2 separate regions of the Homo sapiens genome follow, and region 2 is linked to region 1. Evidence: fine-mapped expression QTL. Tissue or cell type: whole blood. Region 1 holds a variant in brackets; the other region holds the start of a gene. All regions are shown on one strand. Distances are from middle to middle.

Region 1 (8,330 bases):
TCAGTGCGAATGTTTTCCAGGTATCTACTCTGAAGGTTGCATAAGTGAAGCAAATCCGTGTGTAGGGTTGTCAGAAAAAAAAAATACAGCAGTCCCTAGGCCAAGGAAAAACTACAGCAATCCCTAGGCCAAGCCTGGAATAGACACAGAAGTTGCAAGCATGAGTATGATGTGGGCGCTGGTATCTAGCATCTCCCAGTCCAGTATGAGTCTCCAGGTATATCCCAGCCCCCGGCGTAGTGCCTGGCACTAAGCCACAGCACCATTACTGTTTGTTGCTTGAATGAGTGGGTGCACGACTTCATTCATTCAAGGTACACTTAATTAATTACCTACTGTGAGCAAGACCTTGTTCTAGACACTACAGATGCAAACACTGTACGTTAATTACAGTGAACAAAACAGACAGACACTCCCTGCCCTCATTATAATTATCTACCAGTGTTGGGGCAGGGGAAATGAAAACACAAAAAAGTGGCTGGGTGTGGTGGCTCACGCCTGTAATCCCAGCACTTTGGGAGGCTGAGGCAGGCGGATCACCTGAGGTCAGGAGTTGAGACCAGGCTCTCCAACTTGGCAAAACCCTGTCTCTACTAAAAAATACAAAAATCAGCTGGGCGTGGTGGCAGGCGCCTGTAGTCCCAGCTATTCAGGATGCTGGGGCAGGAGAATCACTTGAACCCAGGAGGCAGAGCTTGCGGTGAGCCAAGATCGCACCACTGCACTCCAGCCTGGGTGACAGAGCAAAACTCTGTCTCCAAAAAAAAAAAAATATATATATATATATATGTGTATATATATATGTGTGTGGGTATATATATGTATATATATAAGCAAATATATGGGTATTCAGATAGTGATCAGTACTACGAGAAAAATGAAGCAGATGAGGAAATTTGGGAGTATGAAACAAGGTGGGCAGTGTGATTGCAATTTTAAAGAAGGTGTCAGGGAAGCCTCGCTGGGTGACAGTTCAGCCAAGATCTTCAGGAAGTGAGATGTGTATAAAAGTATATCCGAAGGAATAAGAAGTGTCCTGGCAGCCGTAAGTAAATATCACAGCCTGGGTGCCTTACCCAGAAGACACTTATTTCTCATAGCTCTGGAGGCTGGAAGTCTGAGATCAAGGTGTCGGCAGGTTTGGTTTCTCCTGAGGTCTCTCTCTGGGGCTTGCAGGTGGCCACCGTCCCGCTGTGTCCTCACATGGTCGTCCCTTGCTCCTGTACTGTCTGAGTCCTAGTCTATTCTTATGAGGACACCAGTCATATTGGATTAGGGCCCAACCATGTGACCTCATTTTACATTAATTACCTCTTAAATGTTCTATCTCCAAATACAGTCACAATTCTGAGACATTGGGGTTTAAAATATCAACATAGAAATTTTAGGGAATGTAATTCAGTCCATAACAGTGAATGAATGAATGAATGAATGAATGAACCAGTCTGCTGCTTTGCTTATGTGTGAGAGAGTGAAGGCAGTCAGAGAAACATGGGACAAAAGGAACAGGGGATGAGGGGCAAAAAGCCACATCAGGAGAAAAAAACAGAGATTTGACATGTGCAGTTTTTCAATTCCCTCTTGGCCAATTCAAAATATGTTTTTCCCAGCTCTAACTCTTAATTATTTCCGGAAACGGTTTCATTAACTGCTGTCCTGCAGCAGGATGCTATGAAGAAATCTCTGAACTTAGAGGCAGAAGATGTGAGTTCTGCTCTGCTGGGTGACTTTGGGGGAAGTCACTAACCTCTCTGGGCCTCCTTTCAATGGGAATGGAAATCCCTACCCCCTCTCAGAACTGCAGGAGAAGTTCAGGGAGGTAACTGGCAGGCAGATGAGGGCTTTGTAAACAGGGAAATGTAATATAAATAAAAACCTAAGGTATTGCTGTGAAGCTTGCTGTGAAAACCACTGCAGACAGCTCATGCCTGGGGCCCTCTGGTCATTTCGAAGGGAGCTTATTTATTAAACTCCAGCTTTTCCCTGGTTGTTTTCTTCAGCCCTTCAGGATGATCAGAGAGCTGGGGGAGTGCAGGGCTGGGGAGAAGAAAGAAGAAAGGAGAAGAAAGAGAAATAGATTCCACCTGAAGCACAGAGCTGGTGATTTTTGCCTCATCGAGGATTCTTGCTGATATTGACCAGCAAGATGTTGACATTGATGGGAGCTGACATTGATGGGCACCCTCCTCATTAGGCTCTGTGCTAAATCCTCCCCAGGCATCAACTCACCGAATTCCCATAACACCCTCTGAGGTTAGGCTATAATCTACCCATTTTGCAGGTGAATAAACTGAGGTTCAGAGGCATTAAGAAATTGCCCAGGGTCAATTAAGAGGCAGAACTGAGCCCAGATCTGTCAGCTACTCTCTTAACCTTGACCTACACTTCCTCATCATTCCTCAAAGTGTCCTGGCATTTAGTAGGTACTAAAGACATGTAAGATCTCTAAATTCTCTAGTTTGAATCCCAGCTTTGGCGTTTTCCAGCTGTGTGAAGTTGGACAAGTTATTTTCTTTCTCAGAGGACAAAAATCCCTGCCCTGCCTACCTGTCAACTCCAGTACTTGCCAAGTATGAGTTGGAGGCTGTTACTTAACCTCTCTGAACCTCGATTCCTGTAGCAGTAACGTGGGATAATAACAGTTGATATTCCAAGGGTAAAGCACACAGCCTAGTGCCAGGCACATAGAAAGCGGTCAACCAGGCAGCTATCAATTCAGTACAGGGGTGACAACATGGCACCTATATTCCATCCAGGGTAAGTAAGAAGAGCAGAGATGAAAACATAGACCGGAAGGATAAATTTTAAATGTTCACATCTGCTGATTTCAGAACTTAAGATCAAGAAAATAATTATCTCAGCTAAAGATGTGCAGTTTTCCTTTGACAAGAAAACAAGATATTGGGTGATGCATTGCGTTTTCCTTATTGCTTTGCCAGAAAGCTCAGAGCTAAATCTAATTCTTATTAAGAGTAACTGCATGAATCTGGGTTTAGCCTTCCTTTATATGATATGTATTTTTAAATTTCTGTTCTATTGACTTTACTGTTCCTGTAACATTTAGAGTTAACTTTAGAGAAATTGTTAAATCTAGCTGCTTGAAAAACAGGCGAGGTTAAAAATGATCAATACATATTATGTGGTTATAGTTTAATGCATTTGAAATCAAAGTATTACCCATTACTTGAATTTTAGACAAAGATAAAAGGCACAGAGGCAGGTCCAGATCTATAAATTTAGGTTAAAATATTGTTTTAAAGAAAAAAATAGAAGGCAACTAGATGCCAGAGATTAATTTCAAAGTGGAATTAGTTCACATGAAGCATTTAGAGGAAAAAAAAATTGCAACATCTTCCCCAGAGCTGCCCAGTCCTGTTTGCAGGCAGGGAGTCCCCTTGGCCCCAACCAGGCTGACACTTAGCTTTTTTGAGTCCCAGCTCTCAGAGGAACAGAGGCCTCCTCCATTTTCCCATGCCGGGAGGGATTTCCTGTTTATCTTTCCAGATCGTGTGTCCACATGCACGAGATGTGAAGCC[G/T]GGGCAGAAGCCAAGATGATGAGAGCTATTTCTGCAAGCAAGTTCAATATTAAACATGCAGGGAATGAAGGAAGTTTACATGTAAATCAAATTTAGTCGTGTCCCATTGTCTGGGGTCTCCAGAAAATGGGGTGTGTGTGTGTGTGTGTGTGTGTGCACACACACGTGCATACACTTATATCCAAATATGATATTCTTTTTCTTTTTTTTTTTTTTTGAGATGGAGTCTCACTCTGTGGCCCAGGCTAGAGTGCCATGGCACAATCTTGGCTCACCACAACCTCCGCCTCCCGGGTTCAAACGATTCTTCTGCCTCAGCCTCCCAAGTAGCTGGGATTACAGGCAAATGCCACCATGCCCAGCAAATTTTTGTGCTTTTAGTAGAGATGGGGGTTCACCATGTTGGCCAGGCTGGTCTCAAACTCCTGACCTCAAGTGATCTGCCTGCCTCGGCCTCCCAAAGTGCTAGGATACAGGCCTGAGCCACTGCGCCTGGCTGATATTCTTTCCAAATACTGTAGACCATGGGTGTTCAATCTTTTGGCTTCCCTGGGCCACACTGGAAGAAGAATTGTCTTGGGCCACACATAAAATACACAAATACTAATGAAAGCTGATGAGCTAAAAATAAATAAATAAATATATCTCATAATGTTTTAAGAAAGTTTACAAATTTGTGTTGGGCCACATTCAAAACCATCCTGGGCTGCATGCAGCCCACAGGCTGTGGGTTGGACAAGCCTGCTATAGACTGTTACAAGGATTCTCATTTTGGCACTGGTGTAATGGCCAAAAGACTGGAAACAATATAAAATTAATGGATGGGAACTGGTAAAATGATACACCCACATGATGGGAAAGAATGCAGGTATTCACAAAGAAAGAGGACACAGCCACTTTGGAAAATAGTTTGCAGTATTTAAAAGCTGAACAAAGGCCGTGGTTTCTCCAGTACTCTTAGAACAAACCCCTAAGTCCCTCACACAGTGTATAACAGGATTTCCCAAGCTAGGCACTACTGACACTTGGGGGCCAGATTATTTTTGTAGTGGGGGCTGTCCTGAGTGGGGGGTGGAGGACGTTTTGAAGCCTCCACCCACAAGATGCCAGTAGCACTTCCCTCTGCAAGTCGGGGCAACCAAAAATGTCTCCAGGCATTGCCAAAATGTCACTACATGCAACAACATCCATAAATCTCATAAACTAGTTCTTAGCCAAAGAAGCTAGACACACATACGCCAAGAGTACATATTTATAAATCCGTTGTGGTTGAGGGAGGGGAGGGACCAGCAGGGGGGTTCTGGAATAGAGGTAACATTCTGGTTTTGGATTTCAGTACTGATTACTCAAGTGTTTTTCACACTGTAAAAGTTCATCCTGCTATGCAATTTTCTATAATTATGATTCAATAAAATGGTTTTTAAAATGAGGCATATTGAGGTGGCTAGATATGGAAAGATCTCCAATACGTATACGTGGTGAAAAAAAAAAAAGCAAGTTGATTGCATACTGTAATTCCGTTTGTGTTTGTAAGGGATGTATCAGAGCACCCGAGAAGCACACACCGCTTGCTGATGTGAGTCCACGTTTTTAATCACTGCCAAGCGCGCCAGCCCTCATGAATAAATGCAGAAGTTGTCCAGACCCTACGACTCAGCACGTCTGGTCACCAGGGATATGTCCTAGAGAAGCTCCTGCCTGTTGCCCAAGGGCACATGTGCAGGAAGGCTCATTGCAGTGTTGCTGGAATATCAACTGAGGCTCAGAGAGGTTAAGTGACTTGCTAAAGATCACACAGCTTATGAGTAGGAAAGCCAGCAGCTGAGCCCAGGTTTATTTAAACCCAGAGCTTGAGCTCCTAACCACCATACTGTATGACTGCTACCTCCACTCCCTGCTGTACACTGGCTGGGTGGGGTGGTACAGACAGGAACAACTTGGCTAGCAGGCTCGAATGGCATCCAAAGATCATTCCATCCATACTTCACTTAACTAATGAAAAGTTTGTGGGTATGGCATGGGCCTCCTCCTCAGTTCTCGGGGCACACTGGAGCACCCCAAGCCCTTTCTTCTACCATTCCTTACTCTTGTCAACCCTTGGGTCCCTCTCCTGCCCCCCACCCAAGGTCTCACTTCACTGCAGTCAGAGTTCACATCTGGATGGGGAAAGGGAGCTTTCCGTCTTCAGGGTAGAAAGAGGGAGGAGTGAGTCTTTTCAGTGACCTCCAGAACCAAACTGCACAGACTGATTAGCTTACACCCCTCAAGAAGTGGACCCTGAAACAGGAGCTGGGGTGTGAGTAGTTTATTTGCACAGTGATTCAGGAAACACCAGGAGGGAGGGGACAGTGAGAGACAGGGATGGGAACGGGAAGGCAGCCAAGGAAGGGTGTGTCCCCAGGCATGTTCCTACGGAGGGGGCTGGGGGGCAGGTGGCAACTGAGGTTCAGCTCTGCTGGGGCCAGGGCAAAGCATGCATCCCAGAGCTGTCCCATGGAAAGGGAAGGGAGCTGGGCGATTATCCACCAGTCCCATCCATGGTTGGTTGAGCGCTGCTCCCTGCGGCTCAAACACTCCAGCAATGTCTGCCTTGTCCTACATGTGGGTGGAATGTCCTGTCACAAACAGATAAGAACTCCCGGGCCTGAGCTGCAGGTGTTCATAGGAGGCCACCTTCAGAGTGAGGACGTGAGTGCAGTATGGATCCACAGGCTGCAGGGGAGGCACCTCTGCCATCATCTTTGTCTGTCTCTTTGCCAGCCTTGAATTATACCACAGGTTGCTCTCCTTTGATTGCCGCCTTGGAAAAATGACGGCACAAAGGAAAAGAAACCCACCCTCCCATATACTGTGGGTTAACCTGAAATCCCCCCAAACTCCACCGTGGGCCCGGCAGCCCCCTCCCTCAGCCCCAGCACAGTGGGAGACTAACGGTGGCAGCAAGCTCAGGCTTGTACCCAGAGCCCTTGCAGGAGGAAGCCAAGGGTGCCTCTTGCCTTTGGGAAGGGAGAAGCTGTGAGTTGATTGAAGTGATCAAAGGCACCTCCATCCTTTACAGATGCAACGAGCTGCTAACACTTTCCAAGAGGGATTAAATAAATGAACATCGGAAACTCTGTCCCTGGGCGGAAAAGAAAAGTCATCCGCAGGCATGAACACACTCTAGAAACTCTTGCTAGCATCTGAGCTGTTCCCCTGCTTTCTCTCCTTCTGATTTTGGATCAACCACCAAAAAAGGCAAATTCCTTTCCATACTGGTAATGATGGTGATAATGATAATAACAGTAACAATGATAGCAGTGGCCCTCACTCCTGAGACTTGTAAATATCACTTTGCATCTAGCAACTCATCTCATCTTCGCAAAAGCCTAACAAGGAGGCCGAGCGTGGTGGTCTATGCCTGTAATCCCAGCACTTTGGGAGGCCCAGGCAGGCAGATCACTTGAGGTCAGGAGTTTGAGACCAGCCTGGCCAACGTGGTGAAACCCCGTCTCTACTAAAAATACAAAAATTAGCCAGGTGTGGTCGTGCGTGCCTGTAATCCCAGCTACTCGGGAGGCTGAGGTAGGAGGATCACTTGAGCCTGGGAGGTGGGGGTTGCAGTGAGCCGAGACTGTGCCACTGCACTCCAGCCTGGGTGACAGAGTGACACTCTGTCTCAAAAAAAGAAAAAAATGCCTAACAAGGAGACTCTAAAATTAGCCCTATTTTGTCAGTGAGGAAATTGAGGCTCAGAGAAAATGAGTCAGGGGTCACAAACTCAAATGCCTACAGGGGCAGGCAGACAAGATAAACCAGCAAGTCAGGTGGATATCACATATAGATTGTGATTCATGAGGACTATGTGAACTGGAGATGGAGCAGACAGCCCCTCCTGAGCCCCTGCCTCGCCACTGCCACATGGGAACATGGGCACAGTGTGACCGATCTTATTTTTCAAGTAAAGACAGAAAATTGGATTTGAATGTGATATTTTCCCAGTTTTATAAGCAGCTGAAATCAGTTAGAATTAGGATTAGGTCCCTCTCCTTATAACAAAATAACAGGGCTAAGTAAGATAAAAGTTTCTTTCACACACCAAAAAGAAGTTGGAGACTGGGCGTGGTGGCTCACATCTGTAATCCCAGCACTTTGGGAGGCCGAGGCAGGTGGATCATTTGAGGTCAGGAGTTCGAGACCAGCTTGGCCAACATGGTGAAACTCTGTCTCCACTAAAAATATAAAAATTAGCTGGGCATGGTGGTGGGCACCTGCAATCCCAGCTACTCAAGAGGCTGAGGCAAGAGAATTGCTTGAACCCAGGAGGCGGAGGTTGCAGTGAGCTGAGATCGCACCACTGTACTCCAGTCCGGGCAACAGAACAAGACTCCATCTCAAAAAAATAAAAATAAATAATAAAAAGTTGGAGTCTGGGCACTGTGGCTCACACCTGTAATCCCAGCCCTTTGGGAGGCCAAAGATGGGAGATCATTTGAGGCTAGTTGTTCAAGACCAGCCTGGGCAACATAGTGAGACACTATCTCTACAAAAAATTTTTAAAAATTAGCTGAGTATGGTGCTGTGTGCCTGTGGTCCCAACCACTTTTGAGGCTGAGGTAGGAGGATTGCTTGAGCCCAGCAGTTTGAGACTGCGGCAAGCTATGATGGTGCTGCATTTTAACTTAATCACCTATTGAAAACCCTTACTTCCAAATATGATTACATTCTAAGGTGCTGGGGCTTAGGACTTCAATATACGAATGGCAGGGAGGGGACACAATTAAGCCCATAACACTGTCCATCTCCCCAATTCAC
Region 2 (8,330 bases), 24 kb after region 1:
GGATATAAGAAGCCAATGCAGCTTGGAGGAGAAGGATTCCTGTAAATCACTCACTATGATTTCCCACAGCAGGCAAGTGGATCCCCTAAAGAAAGAAGGCTTATAGAGTTCCCTCAAAAGAGCTCAGAACTTCAACAATGATTCTATTCACATAGGCATTTCTGTCTTCCAAATTTTAGCTTTAAGAGTCTGAGGAAGTACATGTTTTTATTTAGAAAACAAAAAAATCCCAATTTGTAACACTTGGACTGGCTGCATTTCCAATCAGGCAAGCAGATGAGGGGCCATGCTGAACTTAAACTGCAATTGAGGACTGTTATAAATTTGGGAGAACAAGGAAGAATTCCAGGACCGGCTCCTCCCAGCTGCAAAATACACCCAACCTGGTGATACTGACACCTAAAGAGAAAAGAGACAGACTGCCGTCAAGGGCTGTCTCCCTTGCTCTTTTCCTAATTTGTCTCCTCTGCCCACGACCAGGGAGTAACTGATCTTCAAGCACAGAGCCCAAGATACTGAACTATAAGTGAAATGTTTTGCAAGACCTGTGCTGAATCAACAGGTCTCTTGGACCACGTAAGACTGCCTGGACAAGGAAGAACCATCAATGGTTAGAGACCCAGCACAAACCACATGCTAAGCAGCAGGCATTTCCTCTTCATTAGCTCATTAAGCTCAGAAAGAAATCTCTTTGTGAAGGAGTTTGCTAAAAACCTTAAAACAAAAAAGTTTTCTGTCTCCAGCCAGCAGCCAGCCTTGGAGAAACACCTTTACAGGCAAAGCCTAAAACACATCTTTCTCCAAAGCCAACATGTTTTATGCCTTCACCAGTGTTGTCTTGAATATGTATTTGGTTGCTACTTTGGTTCCAGACATCTCTGGCTGGTAGTAGGTAGTTTAATGAATGGATGTTGACGGACAGGTACATATCCCAGCTTGTGGCCTGCGGCGATGTTAGTTAGGCAAGCATGCTGGCTGCTTTTCAAGGTTGTACATTTAATAATAAATATAACTGGCTTCCCTTTCAGATGCAATGCTTGGTGCTAGCAATTACCACAAAATGAGTGAATTGATCAATATAAAGTGCTATTTTCTCTGGAAGCTTCTCTAACCAACTCTCGATTGCCTTTCCATCTATGTGACTTAACTTGTTGACAATCTTGTCAAACACCTGTGATTGCACCATTTTAAAAATACATTAATATTAATTTGAACAGTGGAAATTATGTTCCTCTAAACATTAGCCCCTAAAATAGAACTTCAATTCCAGTTGCAAATAAAGATTCAGATTTTTCTTTTTAAAGACAATCAGGAACCCAGTACCTAGCAAGTAATTGTGTCAAAAACTTTAGTGTTTTGTTTTGTTTTTTTTTAATTTGGGCAGAGAGATCTGTGTCTAAAAACCGACAGAAGGAACTTTCCCTGCAGCTAGTTCTTGCTTCTTCTACTGGACTTCTCTAAAAGCCACATCCTTCTACAGAATCCGTCTACACAGAACAATATTTGAACCAATTCTTGGGTCTCCTGTTGGATGTCTTCCCATGGTTTGCCCAGGACACTCTAGTGGGTGTGAAGATGTCATATTATACTGGACTGTGAAGCGAGAAGGTGATATTTAAGCCACTAAAGCTTGTGGCAGCCACCAAATTTTCCAATGCCTTCTGCAATCTTGCATTTAACTGGCTTCACCGCCATTCCCACCCCCACCCAGTGGGAAAGGCTTTAGGAGCATTTGGTCAGGTGGGGGTGCTGTCAGGGTTTACGGTTCACCTTCAAGGAAGCCCTGGGTGCGCTGACTCCGGGGTGGGGGGCACCTGGCAAGGTAGCGGGGACCCCCGTAGGCCCGGAGAAGCTGGGGCAGCCTTTGCCACGTGGACAGCAACCGCGCTGCTGCAAGTTCCCGGGCGTGCCCGTCGAAAGCGGCCAGGAGGTCAACTGGGGCGGCTTCCCTCAGTGCCTTGGGCAGGGGACCCACCTCGGCAGCCGCCCCACCAGGGCCCAGGACGCAGTGGAAGAGCGTATGGCGTCGCAGCAGGCAGTCCCTAAGGAACTGCACCAACTCCTCCAAACACCTTCCCAGGTGCTCCTCGTCCCAGCCTTGCCCAGGGGCCCCCTTGCGCAGCAGCACTGCCAGCAGCACTGTCTTGAGCACATATGAGGATAGGATGCGTCCCCACTGGGTGGCGGCCGCTGAGTCCAGCCCACGGGCCCCCAGATCGCGCAGAGCCTTAAGCAACTGCAGGCACTTGAGGTAGCAGGCACCTGGAGCTGCCCGTTCCTGCAGCCAACTCAGCAGCTTCTGCTCCTGGCGTGCTGTGTTCACACCCCACAGTGCCTCCGCACGCAGGCCCTCAGGGAGCTCCAACAGGGGCGCGCTGGGCAAGGGTGGCGGTGGTGGCGCCACAAGGAAGACCCCATCTCCCAGATGGACAGCGGGGATGAGACGCACAGCCATAGAAAGGCGGCAGCAGCCGTAGTCAGTGCGGCAGGGCAAGATGTGTAAGGTGGGGGGCTGTTCCAGGCCACCTGGGGTCAAGGTGACCCGACAGCGCCCCTCCAGGCTGTAACGCACAGTGGCCAAGGAGCGCTGCAGATGCGACTGGAACCAGCGCAGCACCAGAGTAGCAGAGAGGTGACGCCGCCCGCGCACATCCACGCAGAAGGCATCAGCAAAGGGTTTGCAGTCCCGAAGCCAGTGGCCCCCCGAGGCCCCCGATGGTGAGGGTGGTGCCTTGAGGGCGCACAAGAAGCAGCCGCGGAAGGCCGGGGCCAGCGCTGGCTCCTCGCCCAGGCTCCGTGGCTCCAGCGCCACAAGCGGCGGGAGGCGCAGTGGCACCAGCACGTCGAAGCTGTCGGGCCGGCGGATTTTATGTTGCTCGTAGGCGCTGCCCACCTGGATGAAGTCTCCGCGGAAGGCCAAGGCCAGCGCTCCCCCAGGAATGAGACCGGGGGACCCCCGGGCGCGGCCAGCCCGCACCAGCTCGCCCACGATCCGGCTCACGTGCGCCTTGCTGTGGCCCAACACGTGCGGAGACAGGCGCACCTCATGCTCGTAGTAACTCTCCAGCAGGATGCTGAGGCCCGGCTCTCGGAAGTGTCTCGAGGAGAAGGCGGCGTGACCCTCCAGACGGGGAGACCCGGGCAGGAAGCGCTGCCGGACAGCGTGGCGACAGCGCAGGAGGACATAGCTGAGGAGGAGCAGGACGGCCACCTTAAGCAACGGGAAGCCGCCATCCACGCCGTCGGCGGGCTCGGCCCGGGCGCCCCCGCTTCCCCGCAGGACATGGTAGAGGCACACCAGGGCGGTGCACAGGCCGGTCACCAGGGGCCAGAAGACGCGTAGATTGAGGGTGTAGTGCACCGACATGCCGGGCGCCCGGGGCGGCGGTGGCCGAGCAGCCCAGGGGGCAAGCCCCGGCGGCGACCCAAGCCCAGCATGCGCACAGCGCCCGGGCAGCCCCGCTGTCCCCGTCTCCTCCTCCGCGGCGGCTTCCCGAACGCAGGCCCGAGGGAGGCCGCCCTCCAGCTCGGCCTCCTCTCCCAGCTCAAGTGTTCCTTCCAGCTGCGGCCCGCCCTGCGCTCTCGGGCCCCGGGCCGCGCCCTGCCCCGGCTGCGCGCTGAGTCCGGCCCAGCGGCCCTCCCCGCCCGGCGCCCCCGCGCGCCGCCGTCGGCCAGCTTCTGGCCCGGCCTGGCTCGCCTCCTACCCTGGGCGGCCCTCCTGGCTCTCCCGCCGCTCCTCTCCGCGCCTGACCCTGTTACTCGGACCCCGGGAGTTTCCTCTTCCGAGGGGGAGGCGAGGCCGCGCCAGCTAGCGGGGAGGAAATGCCGGAGTCTGGAGCCGAGCGTGGAGCTGGCGAGCCGGGTCGGCCCCCTCCCGGGCCTCCGCCTTAAAGCGACGCGGGGCGGCGGGAGGGACTTCAGGACGCTCTTGGAACTGGCCTCCCGCGGCCCACCCCCATCCTCCCTCCCCGAAGGCAGAATTGGGAAGGCCCTGATTCCGGGGCGGTAGCTTCGTCCAGGGAGCCTCTGGAGTTGCGCTCCCTTGAAGTTATACTGGGACGTTGAAAAGGAGAAAAGGGCGCACAGCCAGACTGTCCAGTCCTCCCCACCCCCACCGCACAAGCTGCGGTGGCGTGGCAGGCCCTGGCACAGGAGTGGCCCTTGCCGTCTGCCGCAGTCGTCTGTTCAAACCAGTATTCACCGAGCACCTACCATGTGCCAGGTCGGAGCCACAGTGCTGGGGAAATCATAGTTGACAAGATGGACAAGGTTTCTGTCCTTCGTGAAGCTTACAGCCTTGTAAAAATGGGAATCAAAAAAGGAAGGGGCTGGGCGCAGTGTCTCACGCCTGTAATCCCAGCACTTTGAGAGGCCGAAGTGGGCGGATCATTTAAGGTCAGTAGTTCGAGACTAGCCTGGCCAACATGGTGAGACCCCCCCCCCCGCCCCCCATCTCTACTAAAAATACAAAAATTAGCCAGGCGTAGTGGCACGCGCCTGTAATCCCAGCTGTTCGGGAGGTTCAGGCAGGAGAATCGCTTGAATCCGGGAGGCGGAGGCTGCCGTGAGCCGAGATCGCGCCACTGTACTCCAGCCTGGGTGACAGAGTGAGACTCCGTCTCAAAAAAAAAAAAAAAAAAAAAAAAAGTGGGGGGAAGGATTCCACAGCAAGAAAACGCTCTAAAATAAACAAAAGTGCCCGAGGGAGTGAGAAGGTGCTGGCTACCCTGTGGAAACCAGAGGATGACAGGGGTGACATTTGGCCTGAGACTTCATCGGAACATGCTGGTTCACCCCTGTAATCCCAGCACTTTGGGAAGCCGAGGCGGCGAGAAGATCGCTTGAGTGAGGCCAGGAATTCGAGGCTGCAGTGAGCTATGATAGCATCATTGCACTCCAGCCTGAGTGACAGAGCAAGACTCTTGTCTCTGAAAAAATAAAATAAATAAAATGAAATGAAATTAAAATAAAATTATTTTCCCAGTGGAGGAAAGGGGCACAAACAGGTTCAGCTCAGGCAGGTTCAGCTGCCCCCCTTCCCCCCTCCCCCACAAGGTTACACAGCCTTTGTAGAGCTGGGCAGAAACCAAGGGGTGGAACTCCCAGGAGGGGGCCCAGGGAAGGTCTCTTCCTCATCTGCTGGGAATTTTGGGGGTCCTTTGTCTGGGTCTACATTGGAACCTCAGTCCTAGGAAGCTTGTTTTGTTTCATAACAGGGAGCACTTCCTGAAATAATCTGATCTATTTAAATAATTGTCTTTCTTTATTCACACTCATTACACCTTCTTTGCTGGCACTGACCTTTAAAGAGAGCAAGGGTGAATATATTAAAACATGTTAGAACCCAGCTGCCACCTGGGAACCAGGACTCAAAAGATGGCTTCTGGGTTGTTCCCAGTAAATCCTAAATTGGGCCCCTGAGAGCTAAGCAGATCTGCCTTCAGATCCCATCTACTAATATTAGCTATGAGATCATCATCTACCAGTCAAGATTCTTAGGTTTGCAAGTGACAGAAACACAGCTCCAACTGGCTTAAGTGCACGCACGCATAGACACACACACACACACACATTATTGTATCATGTTAACTGAGATCCATGAGGGGATTTCAGGTACAGCTGAATCTAGGTGCCTCAATGCTATGCAGACCTGTTCTCCCTTCACTTCTTAGCTCTCTGCTTTTTAAGTGGGCTGTCCTCCCCACAGGTCCTCCATATGCCCTTGGCTGCTGTAGTCTCACATTGTCTTCAGTGCAGAAGAAAAGAGAGCCTTTCCTGTTTTTGTTTGTTTGTTTGTTTGTTGTTTGTTTGTTTTAAAGACAGAGTCTCACTCTGTTGCCCAGGCTGGAGTGCAGTGGCACGATCTCAGCTCACTGCAACCTCCACCTCCTGGGTTCAAGTGATTCTCATGCCTCAGCCTCCTGAGTAGCTGGGATTACAGGCATGCGCCACCACGCCTGGCTAATTTTTGTATTTTTAGTAGAGATGGGGTTTCACCATGTTGTCCAGGCTGGTCTTGAACTCCTGACCTCAGGTGATCTGCCCACCTCAGCCTCCCAAAGTGCTGGGATTACAGGCGTGAGCCACCGCGCCTGGCCAGAGAGGCTTGCTTTTCTCAAAGTTGTGGTAAATGCCATGACTTGGGATAGTTTTGGGTCATATGCTAAAGTCACCAAGCAAGGGAATGCACTGATTAGCATTGCCCAGGTAGTGCCCCCACCAACTCCAATCCAAATCTATGTTGAAACCTTAACGGCCAATGTGACTGTATTTGGAGATAGGGCTTTTCGGCAGTAATTTAGGTTAAATGAGGTCAGAAAGATAGGGTCCTAATCTGATAGGATTGGTGACCTTATAAGAGGAAGAAAGAGAGACGGCTCTCTCTCCATGTGGTTGGACCAAAGAAAGACCATCTGCAAGCCTGGAGAAAAGCCCTCACCAGAAGCGGAATGCTACCAGACCTTGATTTTGGACTTTCTAACCTCCAGAGCTATGAGAAAATAAATTTCTGTTGTTGGAGCCACCCAATCTATGGTATTTGTAGAGGCAGCCTGAGCTGACTAATACAGTTGGGTACCCAGCCCTGGAACCAAGAGGTGGAGTCAGCCCTGTTCAAACTGTGGGAACTGTGGGAAGGGGTGTCTCTCCCCCAAGGAAAGTCATGTTGCTGCGGCTGGAAAAAGATGGATGAGATGTTTTGACATGCAGAGATGACAGCTGGCCACCTCTTTTGGATAACTCTCTTAACCTATCTTTGCTTCTATCTCCCGATCTATAAAATGGAGTGCTACCAACAGAGTGGTTTATTTTTCCCCTGGCAGATATAGTGGTATGCTATCTCCAACTATACAAATAATGGCAATGCTCTAGGTCAGAGTTAGCAAACACTATTTTTTTTTTTTTTAAAGAAATAGGTCTTGCTCTGTTGCCTAGCCTGGAGCACAGTAGCACAATCACAGCTCACTGCAGCCTTGAGTTTCTGGGTTCAAGGGATCCTCCTGCCTCAGCCTTCCAAGTAGTTGGAATTACAGGCATGCACCACCACACCTAGCTAATTTTTAAATTTTTTGTAGACATGGGGTCTCACTATGTTGCCCAGGCTGGTCTTGAACTCCTGGCCTCAAGCGATCCTCCTGCCTTGGCTTCCCAAAGTGCTGGGATTACAGGCATGAGCCACCGTGCCTGGCCTGGCTCACACTTTTTGTAAAGGGCCACAGAGTAAATATTTTAGGCTTGGGTGTCATAAAATCTCTACTATAACTACTCAGGTCCACTGCTGTAGCCCCAAATAGCTGGGTTTGGGGCTGTTGCTTGGCAAACTTCGGCTTGCATTAGGTTGGTGCAAAAATAATTGCGGTTTTTGCCATGACTTTTGTTACTAATAGCTGCATTCCTCTACCTCTGTCTTTTTTTTTTTTTTTTTTTTTTTTTTTTTGAGACGTAGTTTTGCTCATGTTGCCCAGGCTGGAGTGCAATGGCATGATCTCGGCTCACCGCAAGCTCCGCCTCCCAAGTTCAAGCGATTCTCCTGCCTCAGCTTCCCGAGTAGCTGGGATTACAGGCATGTGCCACCACGCCCAGCTAATGTTGTATTTTTAGTAGAGATGGGGTTTCTCCAGGTTAGTCAGGCCAGTCTTGAACTCACGACCACAGGTGATCCACCCGCCTCGGCCTCCCGAAGTGCTGGGATTACAGAAGTAAGCCACTGGACCCAGCTACCTCTGTCTTTATTTGGCCTTCTTCCCTGTGCATATTTCTAGGTCTTTGTATCCAAATCTTCCCCTCCTTTTTCATATAAGGACACTATTCATTGAATTTAGGGCCCACCCTAATCCATCTTAACTTGATGACCTCTACAAAGACCCAAATAAGGTCACCTGCACATGTCCAGGAGTTAGGATTTGAACTTACCTTTTAGGGAGACACAATCAACCCACTACAGCAGCTAGAGATGATCTGTCAGTGAGTGGATAGGGCTGTTCCCATCAAATTTATTTATGGATGCTGAAATTTGAATTTTGTAAGATTTTCGTGTGCCATGAAATACACTTCTTTTGATTTTTTTCAACCGTTTAAAAATATAAAAACCTGCTGGGCACAACGGTTCATGCCTGTAATCCCAGCACTTTGGGAGGCCAAGGCAGGAGGATTGCTTGAGCCCAGGAGTTCAAGACCAGCCTAGGCAACACAGTGAGACCCTGTCTCTAGAAAAAAACAAAACAAAACAAAAAAACTAGCTGGGTGTGTTGGTGCACACCTGTAGTCCCAGCTACTCAGGAAGCTAAGACAGGAGGATCATTTGAGTCTAAGATGTCGAGGCTGCTGTGAGC

Evidence for each region. PIP is the estimated chance that this variant, and not a neighbour inherited with it, causes the effect.
Region 2: ITPRIPL2 starts here. The variant in region 1 is fine-mapped to the expression of ITPRIPL2 in whole blood (TOPMed, PIP above 0.99).

The regions. Positions count from the first base shown.
Region 1 is chr16:19,133,881-19,142,210 of GRCh38, reverse strand. LOC124903657 (a long non-coding RNA gene) reads right to left here. Exons shown (of 2, transcript XR_007065011.1): 2 at 5,827-6,657. Among named protein-coding and RNA genes, the nearest start is that of ITPRIPL2, 24 kb to the right of the region's middle. The variant G/T (reference allele first, on the strand shown) is at 3,537.
Region 2 is chr16:19,109,499-19,117,828 of GRCh38, reverse strand. ITPRIPL2 (ITPRIP like 2) reads right to left here and starts at 3,865. Exons shown (of 1, transcript NM_001034841.4): 1 at 1-3,865. The coding sequence starts at 3,367. The coding sequence ends at 1,760. RefSeq lists silencers at 3,304-3,673, 3,764-3,863.